2 separate regions of the Homo sapiens genome follow, and region 2 is linked to region 1. Evidence: fine-mapped QTL for protein levels in blood plasma. A gene starts in region 1. The other region holds a variant in brackets. All regions are shown on one strand. Distances are from middle to middle.

Region 1 (8,294 bases):
CATGCAGCACGTTTGCAACTTCAGCTTCTTGGACTGGTTAGGCTGACAGGTGACCACACAGCCTCTTGTTCTTGTTTTGTAAATGACTAGGAGAGACCAGAGACCAGACTTCCCCGCTTCCCATTACTGATCTTTGCTGTGGACCAGCCGCCTCCTTCATTGTCCTGTGCATCTGTCCTAACTCAGACTAGATGGCACGACGACCCCGTGACGTAGTCCGTGTGGAACGCCAAACATACCTTTCCCAATAGGAAAAGACCACCTTGGCTAATCGGAGCACAGTAACTGTGCATTCACCCTCAGAGAGAAAGATGCTGGAATTGTGTTAAGTTTCCCTAAACTTCATCTATAGAAATGATCCCAAACTGCTACATTTCAGAACACCGACTTCTGTTCTTTGGAATCTGTGCTTCCTGGGCGGCCTGTCCTCAAACTTTGCACTTGAATAATCTCTCTTTAAAGTAGATTCTGACTCTTGATTATTTTAGGTTAACAATGTCTTCAGGGAAATATATTCCACACTGAATTCCTAACTTAAAAAACAAAGAAAAGCTATAAAATGTGAAAAAAAAAAAAAAAAAGGTCAGGCGCGGTGGCTCATGCCTGTATTCCCAGCACTTTGGGAAGCCAAGGAGGGTGGATCACTTGAGGTCAGGAGTTCAACAGCCTGGACAACATAGTGAAACCCTGTCTCTACTAAAAACACAAAAATTAGCTTGGCATGGTGGTGCATGCCTGTGATCCCAGCCAATTTTTTAAAAATTGGCCAGGTGTGATGGTGTGCACCGGTAGTCCCATCTACTTAGGACGCTGAGGTGGGAAGGCCGCTTGAGGCTGCAGTGAGCCTTGATTCCAACACTGCACTCCAGCCTGGGAGACAGAGAGAAATCCTGTCACAAAACAAAACAAAACAAAAAAGAAAGAAGGGGGAAGAAAAGAAAAAGGAAAGAATCAGAAAAAGAAGAAAAAAAGAAAAGAAAAGAAGGGAGGGAGGGAGTAGGGCATCACTTTGTCTAAATAATTGTAACCACAAAAAAGTGGAGACAGGTGAAGTAAATAGATGAGTATGGCCAGAGCATGGGGCAGCAGCAGGAAAGGAAAGAACAGATATGTATGGTTTGGACTAGATGAGTGTTTCTGAGCCTTTTTTTGATAAATGCCCTCCCTCCGTTCTGATACACACTTTAGGACACAGTGTGGGAATCATGTCATCTCTGAACCTCCTTCAACCAAGATTTTGTCCAGCATTAGATTCTATTTTTGCATTGTTAAGCAGGTTTTTGTTTTGCACCATAAAACTGTAATATTCAGTATGCTTGTTCAAACACCTCTCCTACTTTCTAAACCCTACTTCTAGCCTCCTTAAGAAGCAGTGGATCAGAGGAGTCCCCGAATTTAAACCTCCAGAGTTTCGCGTAATTGTCTCATTCCACTGCAGGGGAGAAAATATAATTTCTCTTCTTTCTCTCTTTATTAGTTGAGACATTCTCCTGAAAACAAAATTCAGAGCAACAGGAGAAACAAGCAGAAGTTTATTAGCACTTGCTGTACCCATCGTGTGAGAGGCCTCAGTTCAGAAGTATTTCTCTCTCAAGGCATGTTGTGAACAGCACAAGGTCAGACATAACCAGGTCCACACACGTTTATGTCTTTCCACAGGGTGGGAATATATTGATGCTATTTCAATTATAAAAGCCACGAGCTACGAGGAGTTGCCTCGAGACAATTCCCTTCAGTACTACTTGTTAACTTGGTAGAGCCATGGGCAAAGGCTCAAGCCAGTCCACGTGTCAGTCAATACTGCAAACTATACATCATAGTGTACTTAAAATACAAACGCTATGGTTTAAACATTCCCCATCAAACAAAGTAACATTGGACATCAAGAGAAAGAGGATAGGAAAAGGGGTTAATGGATCAATCCAAGGAAAGCAATGACGGGAACAAGGAGTGTATTCCAGCCTGATCCAGACAGAAGTCATTGTCTTCCAAGGAAGTCCTTGATGTGAGCAGATCCTTAGGCAGCAGATGCAGGGTGCTAAGCACAAGTGACAGCAAGGTGGGGTCTATCAAAATGCCAGTGTTGAATTGGTCAAATCCCGCCCTTTTTAAGGTCACAGTCCTCTGGTGAGGACTGATAGTGAGTGCCTGGTCCTGTCTTTATCTGGCTGAGTGCTGTCTCTATTAACTAGGTGCACATCCAGTCCCCGTTGCTATGATGCCTTTTGAAATGTAAGATTAAATCTTTTTCTAAGATGTAGGTACTTATGCGACGGGTGCTTTATACAAAGCAGTAGCGTAGGGGCCTTAATTAAATAGTATTTTAACAAAAGGCCATAAATCCTATATGATGACAAGCCAAAAAACAGAGCATCTTCAGACTTCTAAAATGCAGGAGCCAGGCGCCGTGGCTCAGGGCTGTAATCTCAGCACTTTGGGAGGCCGAGGCGGGTGGATTGCTTGAGGTCAGGAGTTCGAGACCAGCCTGGCCAACTGGTGAAACCCCGTCTCTACTCAACATACAAAATCAGCCGGGCGTGGTGGCGCACGCCTGTAATCCCAGCTACTTGGGAGGCTGAGGCAAGAGAATCGCTTGAACCCGGGAGGCGGAGGTTACAGCGAGCCGAGATCGCGCCACTGCACTCCAGCCTGGGCGACAGAGCGAGACTCCGTCTCAAAAAAAAAAACAAAGTGCTCGACAGGAACTTTCTGTAAGCCAAAGAGTATCGCCATCGCACCTTCACCTTCACCTTGGGCAGCCTGGTGCCGTCTTCCCTCAGCCCGCGATTAACGAGCGGAAGGCCGCACTGACCCATTTCAGATCCCTTATTTCCTTCCTAAAACCACTCAAGAGTTTGGGCACAGTGGCCTCCCTGTGTGAGGAACTTGCTTCCCACTCACCAAAAGACAAACCCTTCGCCCATCCCTGGCCGCGCACCCGGCCGGTCACCCGCGCTGCCACCCACACCACCCTCCTGTCCATAAAGAGCCCGCGTTTGGGACGCCTCGCAGGCTGAAGGGAGGCCTGGGCGTCCGCGATCCGTCTGCCCTTTCTCCCCTCGCGGGCTTCCTCTTTCCTCACTTTCTCCCGCCACTACTCTTCCTCTTCCTTTTCCGCGAACCCAGCCCACTTCCCGTTTCAGGACCTCGGCTCGGCCCCAGTCCCCCGGACCAGGCCGGGTCACGTGGGTCCAGGGTCACGTGCCGCTGCGGGTCACGTGCCGCTGCGGGTCACGTGTCGGCCTGCATCACGCGTGAGGGGGCGCGCGGTGCTGGAAGCTGCCGCACCTGCGGGGAGCCGAGCCGCCGGCGCTCGACGCGCGCGCTCTCGCGAGACCCGCGGGATCACGTGACGCCCGGGCGCGGCGCAGCTCACGTGACAAGCGCTGCCGGCCGCGGTGTCTTCTTCGTGCCGGCGTCGCAGTGGCCGGGCCTCTTGCGTCTGGTAACGCCGCTGTCTCTAACGCCAGCCCTTGGCGCCCGCGCCCCGCCACCGCAGCGCCCGGCAGTCCGCGGCCCAACCGCCGCCCGCGCCCCCGCTCCCCGCACCGTACCCGGCCGCCTCGCGCCATGGCGGCCCCCGGCAGCGCCCGGCGACCCCTGCTGCTGCTACTGCTGTTGCTGCTGCTCGGTGAGGGGGTCGAGGCGGGGCCTGGGAGCGGCGGGACCGGGCGGAGCCGAGGTCCCTGGGTCTTGAGGGCGGGGGACTGCCGGGTCGTTGTCCCGCGGGTCGCCCCGCACCCACTGCTCCTGGTCCCGGCCGGCTCTGCCCGCGGGCGGGTGTTTCTCTCGGGGTCGTAGGGTCGGAGCGGAGCTCAATGGCAGGTGCTTGGGGGACCAGGAGGTCTCATCCCAGGACCTGGCTCCTCTAAGGTCTGTCTCACTGAACTCAGTTTTTCTGTGGTGGTGAGTGCGAAAGGGAACTTCCGATGGCTTGCTCGGCGGTCTGGTGCTTTCAGGTCGTTAAGTTTCCTGGCAAGTTGAGGCGGTGAGATCTAGACGAGGCTGCGCCGCCGAAGGTGGCAGGGACGTCTGTGGTCTCAGCTCCCGGGTGGGTGACCTAGATCAAGCTCTTCCCAACATGGATTTCACCCAGGACAGGGAGAAGCCGGTGCGAGCATTCCCCACCTTTGTACTTGAACCTTTCTCCTCTTTCAGCGGTGTGGAGGAGATGCGAGTGTATTTATGTTATTGTGAATTCACATGTATGTTAAAATAATTTTTAAAGTTATCTTTGGGATTTCACAAGATTCCGTAGTAGACAAGATGAGGGAAAGCTGGCCTCAGACTCACGGTGGCAATGTTCATGTCTAGTAAGTAGTTTAAAGAGCGCCGTTCCTGTAGGCCGAAATGCGGGACCAGGGAACACGTGGGGAAGCACCCTTCTCTTCTGTCAGTTTATAGAGCTCAGATGGGCAGTAGGTGCTCAATATTGTATTGACTAGTGAATTTCGTTCTCATTTATTGTCTTAATAAGAGGATGTGTGCTGTCTCTTTAAGACAGTCCGGATTGCCCCCCGCCAACACTATTCTTTCACCTCCTCCCCCCGCCGCCCTCCCCCGTAATATGAGAAGATTATCTTAAATGCCAGGATCTGAAAGGTGATGTAGAATCAAGCTGGGGGAGTGTGTGTGAGTTAAGTAGATATAGAAATACACTCCTGTACACATCTGCCTTGACTTCTTTAAATCCCTCAGTCCCATCCAGCTGTAAAACTCTGTTACTGTGAGTGAATGGATCTTGGCTTCCCTTTTTTGTTTTGCCTGTTGTGTAAAATGAATTCTTTGAACTGCCTGAATAGCCACAGAGATGAACTTATTCCAATAGTAAGCCTGAAGCCTTGCTCAGCTCCTGCGACAGGGTCAGGTGTAGTTAATGAAAGGAGTTGCAGAAACAAGTTTTGTCATGTCACAGCAACTGCATTGTTCTTTGTTACAGATGCTCACAAGCCTCATAACTTTGATGTTTTGTTTCATGTTTTAAAAACTCACTTCAGGCCGGGAGCAGTGGCTCACGCCTTTAATCCCAACACTTTGGGTGGCCGAGGCAGATGGATCATGGCGTCAGGAGTTCGAGACCAGCCTGGCCAATATGGCGAAACCCGGTCTCTACAAAAATACAAAAATTAGCTGGGCATGGTGGCGCACGCCTGTAATCCCAGCTACTTGGTAGGCTGAGGCAGAAGAATTGCTTGAACCCGGGAAGCAGAGGTTGCAGTGAGCTGAGATCAAGCCACTGCACTCCAGCCTGGGCAACTGAGGGAGACTCCGTCTCAAAACAAAAAAAAAATTAACTTTAAAAATGAAGAGAAAAAATCCATAACTCCCTAATATTGTGATTGGAATATTGCTTGTGTAATCAGTCTTCTAAGATCTGTTCCATTATATCTTTTATGTTTACAATCTTAACTTTTTTTTTTTGAGGCGGAGTTGCTCTGTGCCCAGGCTGGAGTGCAGTGGCACAACCTCGGCTCACTACAACTTCTGCCTCCTGGGTTCGAGCAATTCTTCTGCCTCAGCTTCCTGAGTAGCTGGGATTACAGGCACCCGCCACTATGCTAGGCTAATTTATGTATTTTTGGTAGAGACTAGGTTTAACTATGTTGGTTAGACTGGTCTCGATCTCCCGACCTCGTGATCCGCCTCCCTCTGCCTCCCAAAGTGCTGGGAGTACGGGTTTGAGCCACCGTACTTGGCCCAAGAATTTTTTTTTTTTTTTTTTGAGGCAGAGTCTCACTCTGTCACCCAGGCTGGAGTGCAGTGGCGTGATCTCCGTTCACTGCAGCCTCCGCCTCTTGTGTTCAAGCAGTTCTCCTGCCTCAGCCTCCCTAGTAGCTGGGACTACAGGTGCGCGCCACCATGCCTGGCTAATTTTTGTAGTTTTAGTAGAGATGGGGTTTCACCATGCTGGCCAGGCTGGTCTCGAACTGACCTCGTGATCCACCTGCCTCAGACTCCCAAAGTGCTGGGATTACAGCCATGAGCCACCGTGCCTAGCCAAAATCCAACTTTTAAAAAAGGCCTTTTAACAACTTGCATTTAAAGATATTTAAAATGTTTATTTTAATGTGCGATTTCACCAAAAATCCTTTTTTCTTAAAAAAAGAAACTGCTCAATTACAAATTTCCACTATATTAATAATTAGGCATTGTTTAAAGCTACTGTGTTTGAATACTTAGAAAGCTCAAACATGAACTGAAACTTGTCCTGATAGATAGGATTAGCTGTGATTGCGTAATGTGACCCTTTAAACCATTGATGTCAGCAGGATGACCGCCTTACCCTTTCCACTTGAACAACTGTCACTTAGGAGGTTTGAACAATTTTATACTCGGCTGGGTGCAGTGGTTCACGCCTGTAATCTCAGCACTTTGGGAGGCCCAGGTGGGCGGATCAGCTGAAGTCAGGGGTTTGAGACCAGCCTGGCCAATGTGGTGAAACCCCGTCTCTACTAAGAATACAAAAATTAGCCAGGCGTGGTGTGGTGGCAGGCGCCTGTAATTCCAGCTACGTGGGAGGCTGAGGCAGGAGAATTGCTTGAACCTGGGAGGCAGGGGTTGCAGGGAGCTGAGATCGTGCCATTGCACTCCAGCCTGGGCAACAAAATCGAAACTCAATGTCAAAAAAAAAAAAAAAAAAAGAAAAAGAAAAGAAAGAAAAGCTGGGTGTGGTGGCTCATGCCTGTAATCCCAGCACTTTGGGAGGCTGAGGCAGGCCGATCACTAGGTCAAGAGATCGAGACCATCCTGGCCACAACATGGTGAAACTCCATCTCTATTCTTTTTAAAAATATTTTTAAAAAGTTAGCCAGGCGTAGTGGCACAGGCCTGTAGTCCCAGTTACTCAGGAGGCTGAGGCAGGAGAACTGCTTGAACCCGGAAGGTGGAGGTTGCAGTGAGCCGAGATCGTGCCACTGCTCTTCAGGGCAACAGAGCGAGACTCCATCTCAAAAAAACAAAGAAAAAAATTTTTTTTCTACTAACCGATGTTACCTTTGATTGTGCAGATTGTCAGTTATGCGGTGGAAAGAATGAATTTGTCAGCAGATTTGAGGTCAGAATGTCTTTGTAGCCCTGTAATTTTGAATTTGTATTGCATTAGCCCCATCCCAGACAACGTTACCCTTTCTTCTCTGTACCCAAGACTTTTATTGCATGTGCTTCTACATGGTAACATCTGTTCGGCTGCACTGGGATTATTTTTGCCTGTGTATCTCCCTTCCTTAACTGACAGGTAGTAAGTGCTGAGTACATATATGAAGAAAGGATCAATTTTATAGCAGTGGCTCTCAACCAAACATATGCACGGATCCACACGATCAGCTTTTTAGAAATATACATACCACAGCGAGGCACAGTGGCTCATGCCTGTCATCTCAGTGCTTTGAGGCTAAGGCAGGAGGATTGCTTGAGATCAGCCTGGGCAACATGGCGAGACCAGTGTCTCTACAAAAAAAATTAAAAAGAAATATACGGCCGGGCACGGTGGCTGTCACGTGTAATCCTAACACTTTGGGAGGCCGAGGTGGGTGGATTGCCTGAGCTCAGGAGTTCGAGACCAGCCTGGGCAATATGGTGAAATCCCATCTCTACTAAAATACAAAAAAAATTAGTCGGGCATGGTGGCGTACCCCTGTAGTCATAGCTACTTGGAAGGCTGAGGTAGGAGAATTGCTTGAGCCCGGGAGGCGGAGGTTGCAGTGAGCGAAGATCATGCTACTGGACTCCAGCCTGGGTGACAGAGTGAGACTCTGTTTCCATTTAAAAAAAAAAAAAAAAAATATATATATATATATATATATATATATATATATATATATATATATATTTACACACACACACACTTATACCTTGCCTCTAGAGGTTGTGATTCAGTGCCTGGGATGGTATTTTTTTCCTTTAGTTCTTCATAAATGATTGTGCATCATTGGTTAAGTAGAATAAAAATACCATATTTAAAAGAATCAAGCCAAGAAAAACTAAGATGTGATTTCTTTTTTTTTTTTTTTTTTTTTTGAGACGGAGTCTCGCTCTGTCGCCCAGGCTGGAGTGCAGTGGTGCGATCTCGGCTCACTGCAAGCTCCGCCTCCCAGGTTCACGCCATTCTCCTGCCTCAGCCTCCCGAGTACCAGGGATTACAGGCATGCGCCACCATGCCCGGCTAATTTTGTATTTTTAGTGGTGACAGGGTTTCTCCATGTTTGGTCAGGCTGGTCTCAAACGCCTAACCTCAGGTGATCTGCCCACCTCGGCCTCCCAAAGTGCTGGGATTACAGGCGGTAGCCACCACACCC
Region 2 (8,294 bases), 22 kb after region 1:
TCCAGCCCAGCTGACAGAGTGAGATTCCATCTCAAAAACAAAAAAACAAAGTAGGGCAGATGACTGTCACTCCAGAGGGTCTGAGTGCAGCTCTGCCTGAGGCTGGAGTCAGCCAGATATCCATCCAAACCGGATTTCCAGCCCAGGCCCATATGGGGTTAGCAGATCTACAGTGAGGCTCAGCCAGGCTTTTGGGTTTATGAGTTCACCGGGAGGAGTGGGGTGTCTTCGTCTTTTATCCTCAGGGTCTGATAGGTGCACGCTTGTTGAATGAATCAGAGGACTGCCTGACTCCTGTTAGGAGTTGAAAATGAAGGTCACCGTGTCTCATCTCCCACCCAATTTGGCATGATTTTTTTTTTTTTTTTTTGAGGCAGAGTCCCGCTCTGTCACCCCAGGCTGGAGTGCAGTGGCGTGATCTCTGCTCACTGCAAGCTCCGCCTCCTGGGTTCACGCCATTCTTCTGCCTCAGCCTCCCAAGTAGGTGGGACTGTAGGCGCCCGCCACCACGCCTGGCTAATTTTTGTATTTTTAGTAGAGACGGGGTTTCACCGTGTTAACCAGGATGGTCTTGATCTCCTGACCTCGTGATCCGCCCGCCTCGGCCTCCCAAAGTGCTGGGATTACAGGCGTGAGCCACCGTGCCCAGCTGCAGCATTTTTTTTTCATTCCTAGGAACAGAGTCTGACTCCTAGCTTAAATGGAAGGAATCGATGGTAAAACATTGGAGGTGGAGGTTGCAGTGAGCTGAGATGGCGCCGCTGCACTCTAGCCTGGGTGGCAGAGCAACTGAGACTCTGTCTCAAAAAAAAAAAAAAAGAACTACCATCAGAAAGGCGGAGAGGATGAGAGTCCCTCAGGACAGGTGAAAGGGGCAGGAGAAGGTCAGAGGCCTGACACACCCAACATTGTCACAAAAAACTGTAAGAGAGGCTGTGGGAGCTATGAGTCGGGAACCTGGGTGCAAACCAATCTCATCCTCACAGACACCCTTGAGGGTCTGAATTGCAGCTTGCAGGTTGATGTGAGTATCTGCTGTTGCCGGGAGAGGAGGAGGGGCCTTCAGAGCACATGAGCTTTGGAAAGGCCCGGCTGTGTGCTGCTCTCCGGAGGGTGCTGGAGGAGGTGTGACAGTGGACCCTCAGGTCTCCCCAGAGGCTCCTGTGCCACCATCTCCCCCCGGGCAGCGCAGGGCACTCTCCAGTGCGTTCCGTGATGAGCTCTCCGTCACTGTCCTCCGCCCTCAGCAGGAAAGACTTTGGTATTTAGTACGCATTCAGGGAAGGAGAGTGTGGGTTTGCGTTTGTAATTCAGGTAGAAGGACGAGGGCATTTTATCCACACTTATTTCTCAAGTTCCAGTTTTTTAAACTGGTGGTTAGACCTGATGATGTTTTATTTGTGTTTCCAGCTTCTTGTGACCACTCTACAGAAACAGGGTGGGAAATGAATGTGCCACATGGATCACAGGTGAAAAACAATTGTCAAAGCAGCGTAGGTTACACTTTTTCTGTGCGTCGTGTGGCCATCTAGACTAGAATTTGGACAAGACTGGCCGGTTTTGCACATTTAACTTTTGCCTGTTTAACCCTGGTCTGTAACATTTTATAAAGGAACCGTGAAGCTGCTTTTTTTTTTTTTTTTTTGAGACAGGGTCTCCCAGGCTGGAGTGCAGTGGCACAATAACTGCTCACTGCAGCCTCAGCCTCCCAGGCTCCAGTGACCCTCCCTAGTCAGCCTTCTGAGTAGCTAGGACTAAGGCGCATGCCACCATGCCTGGCTCATTTTTTAAAAAAACTTTGTGGAGATGGGGGTCTCCCTATGTTGCCCAGGCTGGCCTTGAACTCCTGGGCTCAAGCAGTCCTCCTTCCTTGGCCTCTCAAAGCCCTGGAATTACAGGCATGAGCCACTGCGCCCAGCAAGTGAAGCTGTTTTGGAAAGGACTGGTCAACCTGCAGCTTCGCCAAGGGCAGTGAGCAAGGGTCCCTGAGCACATCCCAGGTTGGGACGGCTCCCAGTGGCCGTCAGTGCCTCTCACTTCAGAGTTTGGTGTGGTTACTGCAGCTCCTCTCTGCCATCTTGTGCTCTGTCCAGAAGGGGCTTTTACACCGGGGTGCGGGGGCACTCCTGTGTGTGTCTCAGAACCCGTTGGGGTGCAGTCATAGGCGACGTTGCCTGTCTCTTTCCTGCCCTGAGTAGATGGGATATGAAGGTGGGAATTGGCCACTGAATGTTGAGATGGAAGCGGAAGCAGCAGGTGACTGATGGAGTTATGAGTGGCAGATTCCCTGCAGGGTTGCCCACCCTGGATATGTGGGGCTCACGCGTGGTGACTCAGCCTAGCAGAGATGTGGAAAGGATCGAATTGGGTGGAAATTATATAAATATTATTCTTGAGTATCCACAGAAACAAGGTGGTAAAAGAAAGAACCTGATTTCAAGGTTGATGGTGTGTTAGTGAGAGTGTTGGCCACAGAAGACTCGGTAGAGCTCTACCTAGGGTTCAGTCTGTCTTGACTTTGAATATAAATTTGTGTTGTGAACATCTTGGTGGGTGAATTGCTGAAGGACAGAGTCACATTCAGACTGCTGGGCATTCCCCAGGGGTGCCATGTGCCCCCCCACCCCCACGGATTCCCTGAACTGTGCCCTCTTGTCTGGGGATTTCAGACGCACCCACACTCACTGCCTTCTCCCTCGTGAGGATGCTTGCCCATCCCCCACAGCCCCCTCCCCAAATGAAGACCCAACACAGCTGGCTAGCCTTGCCCGCCTTTGAGTCTCTGCTCACACGTGGGGTCCTCATGGAGACTGCCTGACCCCTGTCCTGCCAGAGGGCCTCCTTGGCTGCTCTGCGTCCCACCTGGCCGGTCTGTGTGTGCTGCAGACCCTCTGTTTCCCTCTGGGTAGTGTTTCCAGCACGATCCTGGCGCTCACCCGACAGCTCAGGGAGCAGTGTCTGAGTCGTCACCATTTCCCATGGGGTGAGGTGGCCGGCCACGCAGCACAGCTTCCTGCGTCCACTCCTTCGTGACAGCGTTCAAGGCTTTCTCACCCTCACTTTAGGAAGAGGGTGGCACAGTGGCCCCTGTCCAGCCACGGGGCTTGGGGTGTGGTGGGCGGTGCCTGCTGCCCAGGCAGAACCGTCCTGGGTAGTGGGAGGTGGAGGCTGAGGGTGCCCCACGGGCCTGTGCCTACCGCCCTGAGCCGTCTGCAGGACCCAGCTCTTTCCTGCGCGTCTAGAAAGGCATTAGCGAGAGCCACCTTGGGAGACTGAGAAAATAGTCACCAAGGACGCCAGAGTCCACAGATGTAGTTTTGTTTCTGAGTTTGGATCTTACTGTAACTGCTGATGGTTATGAGAAACCCAGACCTGAATCTCCCTCCACTGCACCTGCAGAGACACGCTGTGAACAAGACAGGCCTTCCCCAACCACAGCGCCCCCTGCGCCACCCAGCCCCTCGCCCTCACCCGTGCCCAAGAGCCCCTCTGTGGACAAGTACAACGTGAGCGGCACCAACGGGACCTGCCTGCTGGCCAGCATGGGGCTGCAGCTGAACCTCACCTATGAGAGGAAGGACAACACGGTAGGGCTGGGGCCTCACCTGGGAGAGGGGGACGGCACGGTAGGGCTGGAGCCTCTGCTCCCTGTGCACTGAGAACACGCGTCTCTGCACGTCATGCTGTTAAGTCAGGATGGGAGCTTAGCTTGCAGGACGTGACCCTAGAGGACAAGAGCTGGCGTCTGTGTCAGTGAGTCCATTTTGTAGGATCACAGCCGTCCTGCTGGTTCCATCATCCAAGGCTGGTGTCCCAGCATGGCCTATTGGGCAGTGTGGCCCACAGAGCCTACAACTTGGCCCCTGATAGAACCTAAGTTTTCTTTACATATTTATCATGGAAACATTTAAGTGTTACATTTTTATAGTTTTCTTTTGAAATAGTTTTTCTCCCCTAGTAGTGACAGGCTGTGGGGTTGTGGGGGTCGACTTGCGTGCCGTGGGGTGAGTTTGCAGGGCTGACTGCTGCAGGGGGAGGTGGTGCTGCTGGTTGCCCTCCACGCGGGGACGCTGCACTCCAAGAGCAGCTGTCACGGGGTCAGGGAGAGTCATCTTGGGATCCCGAAATCTGTACTAGTGTGGTCTTTCAGTGTTTTCCTTCTGGTTTTGGTTAAAACAAATGTGGCCTTGAATTCACGGTTTCAGGACTGTTTGTCTTTTCGAGAGTGTGGAGGACCTGAGCTAGGGTGGTGACTTGCTTGCTTGTCTTATGCAGACGGTGACAAGGCTTCTCAACATCAACCCCAACAAGACCTCGGCCAGCGGGAGCTGCGGCGCCCACCTGGTGACTCTGGAGCTGCACAGCGAGGGCACCACCGTCCTGCTCTTCCAGTTCGGGATGGTGAGGCTGGGGCGGCACCTCTCTGGGGGCGCCCACTGTGTCTCCACCACATCTTTTTGTGCCCTGGGTCTGCTCATGGGAGGCAGCGTTAGGAAGGAGGCGGCCTCACTTTTTTCTGCCTTCCCTTTATCCTGGGCTTTTTAGTTCCTTGGTTCCCCTCCCCCCTTTCCATTCCATTCATAGATGCAGCAGATGATGTGGGCGGGGCTGCTGTGCCCACAGTTGGAGTGGCTGCAGGGGAGGGCATGCAGGCCGTGCGGCCTTCTGGCTTCAGATGCTGCTGCCCTGTGGTTCCGTGGTGGCATTTCTGCCTGGGAGGACTCCTGTGCAGTTAGCAACATAAGACATGAAGCATATAATTGTCACTTGTCAGTCTTTTTAAATCGCTGTGCAAATGAATTAACAGTTCAGTTTCTTATAATTTTAGCTTTCCAAATCATGCTTTCCTGTGCTGTGATAGCTCCTGCAGTCCCCGTTTTCCAGAGACTGACTCTCAAGAGGTCT[G/A]GAAGGACCAGCCTGGGCAGCACAGGGAGGCTCCATTTCTGCAAATAATAAAACGAGTTAGCTGGGCGTAGTGGCGCACACCTGTGGTCCCAGCTACTTGGGAGGCTGAGGTGGGAGGATCACTTGAGCCCAGGAGTTAAGGTTGCGATGAGCCGTGATCACTCCACTGCACTCCAGCCTGGGTGACAGAGCAAGACTCTCAGAGAAGGGTCTGGAAGGAACTAACCAAAATTTTCATTCCCCAGAGATACACAACGCCTTTTATAGACAAGATCTTTTGCAGTTTTGTTCTAATACTAGAAATGTAGGAAGTCAGGTTTATTACCCAATGACCATTCACGTTTGATGATAAATGTGTGAATCTACTGGGGTTAAAGATCATCTTTCTATGAATCTGCTCCGTGATTAAAGATCATTTTTCTTTTTAAGAATGCAAGTTCTAGCCGGTTTTTCCTACAAGGAATCCAGTTGAATACAATTCTTCCTGACGCCAGAGGTGAGAACCCACAATCTCTGCGAGCCCCGCCCCCGCCCGCGCGCCCAGGGTATTCTGGAGCCACTAGACCTCTGTGTGTGTTGCAGACCCTGCCTTTAAAGCTGCCAACGGCTCCCTGCGAGCGCTGCAGGCCACAGTCGGCAATTCCTACAAGTGCAACGCGGAGGAGCACGTCCGTGTCACGAAGGCGTTTTCAGTCAATATATTCAAAGTGTGGGTCCAGGCTTTCAAGGTGGAAGGTGGCCAGTTTGGCTCTGGTGAGTGTCACCGAGGGCAGCTGTCGCGGGGTGTGGAGGACGTGCTTCAGACTCCGCCTGTGGACGTTTAGTCGCTTCCGTGTGGGCTGGGGCGACGCCCCTGTTCCTCTGCAAGGAGCTGTTTCTTCTTGCCGGTCTGAGATTCTAGAGGTAACTCCCCCTGCTTTAGAGAGGCCCAGCGTGTCTCTCAGCTGGGAGCCCCTGGTACCATTTGAGAGTAAGGGAATCATTTTAAGAAACAGTGGTGGCGCTTCTCCCATGAACGTTGAATACAACACTGTCATCTGATGTGCACAGAGGCCCTGGACGCAGCACAGCTGTCCGGCCACAGCCCCTGATTCCAGACGGGGGAGAGACGTGTGTGGTTTCCTCGCCGTGCAGAGAGCACCAGTCTCTGCAGCGGCTTCCCCAAGTGACAATTCCAGCTAGAGCTGGAACCTTCCGCCAGGGTTCCTCTTTGCCTTTTGGCTGATGTGGGGGAGTGGTGGGGAGAGAGGCCTGTTTGCAGGCCCCTGTGTGAGCAGAGCCCTGACACCATCCGTCTGTCTTGGCAGTGGAGGAGTGTCTGCTGGACGAGAACAGCATGCTGATCCCCATCGCTGTGGGTGGTGCCCTGGCGGGGCTGGTCCTCATCGTCCTCATCGCCTACCTCGTCGGCAGGAAGAGGAGTCACGCAGGCTACCAGACTATCTAGCCTGGTGCACGCAGGCACAGCAGCTGCAGGGGCCTCTGTTCCTTTCTCTGGGCTTAGGGTCCTGTCGAAGGGGAGGCACACTTTCTGGCAAACGTTTCTCAAATCTGCTTCATCCAATGTGAAGTTCATCTTGCAGCATTTACTATGCACAACAGAGTAACTATCGAAATGACGGTGTTAATTTTGCTAACTGGGTTAAATATTTTGCTAACTGGTTAAACATTAATATTTACCAAAGTAGGATTTTGAGGGTGGGGGTGCTCTCTCTGAGGGGGTGGGGGTGCCGCTGTCTCTGAGGGGTGGGGGTGCCGCTGTCTCTGAGGGGTGGGGGTGCCGCTCTCTCTGAGGGGGTGGGGGTGCCGCTTTCTCTGAGGGGGTGGGGGTGCCGCTCTCTCTGAGGGGGTGGGGGTGCTGCTCTCTCCGAGGGGTGGAATGCCGCTGTCTCTGAGGGGTGGGGGTGCCGCTCTAAATTGGCTCCATATCATTTGAGTTTAGGGTTCTGGTGTTTGGTTTCTTCATTCTTTACTGCACTCAGATTTAAGCCTTACAAAGGGAAAGCCTCTGGCCGTCACACGTAGGACGCATGAAGGTCACTCGTGGTGAGGCTGACATGCTCACACATTACAACAGTAGAGAGGGAACATCCTAAGACAGAGGAACTCCAGAGATGAGTGTCTGGAGCGCTTCAGTTCAGCTTTAAAGGCCAGGACGGGCCACACGTGGCTGGCGGCCTCGTTCCAGTGGCGGCACGTCCTTGGGCGTCTCTAATGTCTGCAGCTCAAGGGCTGGCACTTTTTTAAATATAAAAATGGGTGTTATTTTTATTTTTATTTGTAAAGTGATTTTTGGTCTTCTGTTGACATTCGGGGTGATCCTGTTCTGCGCTGTGTACAATGTGAGATCGGTGCGTTCTCCTGATGTTTTGCCGTGGCTTGGGGATTGTACACGGGACCAGCTCACGTAATGCATTGCCTGTAACAATGTAATAAAAAGCCTCTTTCTTTTTGGGGTGGGCCTTGTCCTTCTGTCAGCTAAAATGGGAGCTCATGAGAGAAGGACGTCAGGGAAACGGGGTTGAGGGTGGTCTCGGTGCAGAGAGAAGGGTGTCAGGGAAACGGGGGGTGAGGGTGGTCTTGGTGCCAGACGTAGGGAATGGTGTTGGGAGTGGCCCGAGTGCCTGGCACAGTTGTCTGGTTCATTCATGTAACATGATAATTTTTAAATCATTAAAAAAATTACCTTTCATACAGATACCATGGAATACTATGCAGCCATAAAGAGGTATGAGATCTTGTCCCCTGCAGGGACACGGATAGAGCTGGAAGCCATTATTCTCAGCAAACTAACACAGGAGCAGAAAACCAGACACCACTTGTTCTCACTTGTAAGTGGGAGCTTCTGATGAGAACACATGGACACAAGGAGGGGAACATCACACACTGGGGCCCGTTGGGTCGGGGGCAGGGAGAGCATCAGGAAGAATAGCTAAGGGATGCTGGCTTCATACCTAGGTGACAGGATGGTCTGTGCAGCACATCACCACGGCACACGTTTACCTGTGCAACAGACCTGTACACCCTCCACCTGTACCCAGAAGTTAAAAGTTGAAGGGAGAAAATGATCTTTCTAAAGAGAAATCACCTACTACGTGCAGAAGCCTCACATAAACTGCACGCTCTGTCACAGAAAGGAATGGAATATTGACACTGCCGCTGTAAGACCTCAGTGACCACTCACTATGTTAATTTCCAGTCAGCTGAGAAACTGATCACAAACACAGGTGTTGGCATACTTTATTAGATACAAACCCACACTCACATTTTATATATTATTGATCTCTCAGGTAAAAATAAGTTTTCTTTAAAAAGTATGACTTCATAGCTAATCATCAAAAGCTGGTAGAATGACCTGATTTTAAACTGCTCTTTTAAAAAATTCACAA

Alleles and levels. Alleles are on the strand shown, and positions count from the first base shown. The strength of an association depends on the size of the effect and on how common the allele is.
In carriers of allele A in region 2, the plasma level of the protein whose gene starts at base 3,375 in region 1 tends to be higher than with G alone (weak association).

Evidence for each region. PIP is the posterior inclusion probability: the model's chance that the variant is causal. Protein levels are from antibody-based Olink assays in UK Biobank. Linkage for the fine-mapping came from a reference panel and not from the study's own genotypes, which makes the PIPs less certain.
Region 2: its variant is fine-mapped to the plasma level of the LAMP1 protein (UK Biobank, PIP above 0.99).

Annotation. Positions count from the first base shown.
Region 1 is chr13:113,293,865-113,302,158 of GRCh38, forward strand. LAMP1 (lysosomal associated membrane protein 1) reads left to right here and starts at 3,375. Exons shown (of 9, transcript NM_005561.4): 1 at 3,375-3,631. The coding sequence starts at 3,571. RefSeq lists silencers at 3,506-3,785, 6,090-6,384, 6,257-6,336 and an enhancer at 4,016-4,195.
Region 2 is chr13:113,316,070-113,324,363 of GRCh38, forward strand. LAMP1 (lysosomal associated membrane protein 1) reads left to right here. Exons shown (of 9, transcript NM_005561.4): 5 at 3,400-3,587; 6 at 4,276-4,401; 7 at 5,335-5,401; 8 at 5,488-5,658; 9 at 6,213-7,603. The coding sequence ends at 6,352. It overlaps GRTP1 (growth hormone regulated TBC protein 1), which reads right to left. Exons shown (of 8, transcript NM_024719.4): 8 at 8,094-8,294. Among named protein-coding and RNA genes, the nearest start is that of LAMP1, 23 kb to the left of the region's middle. The variant G/A (reference allele first, on the strand shown) is at 4,906.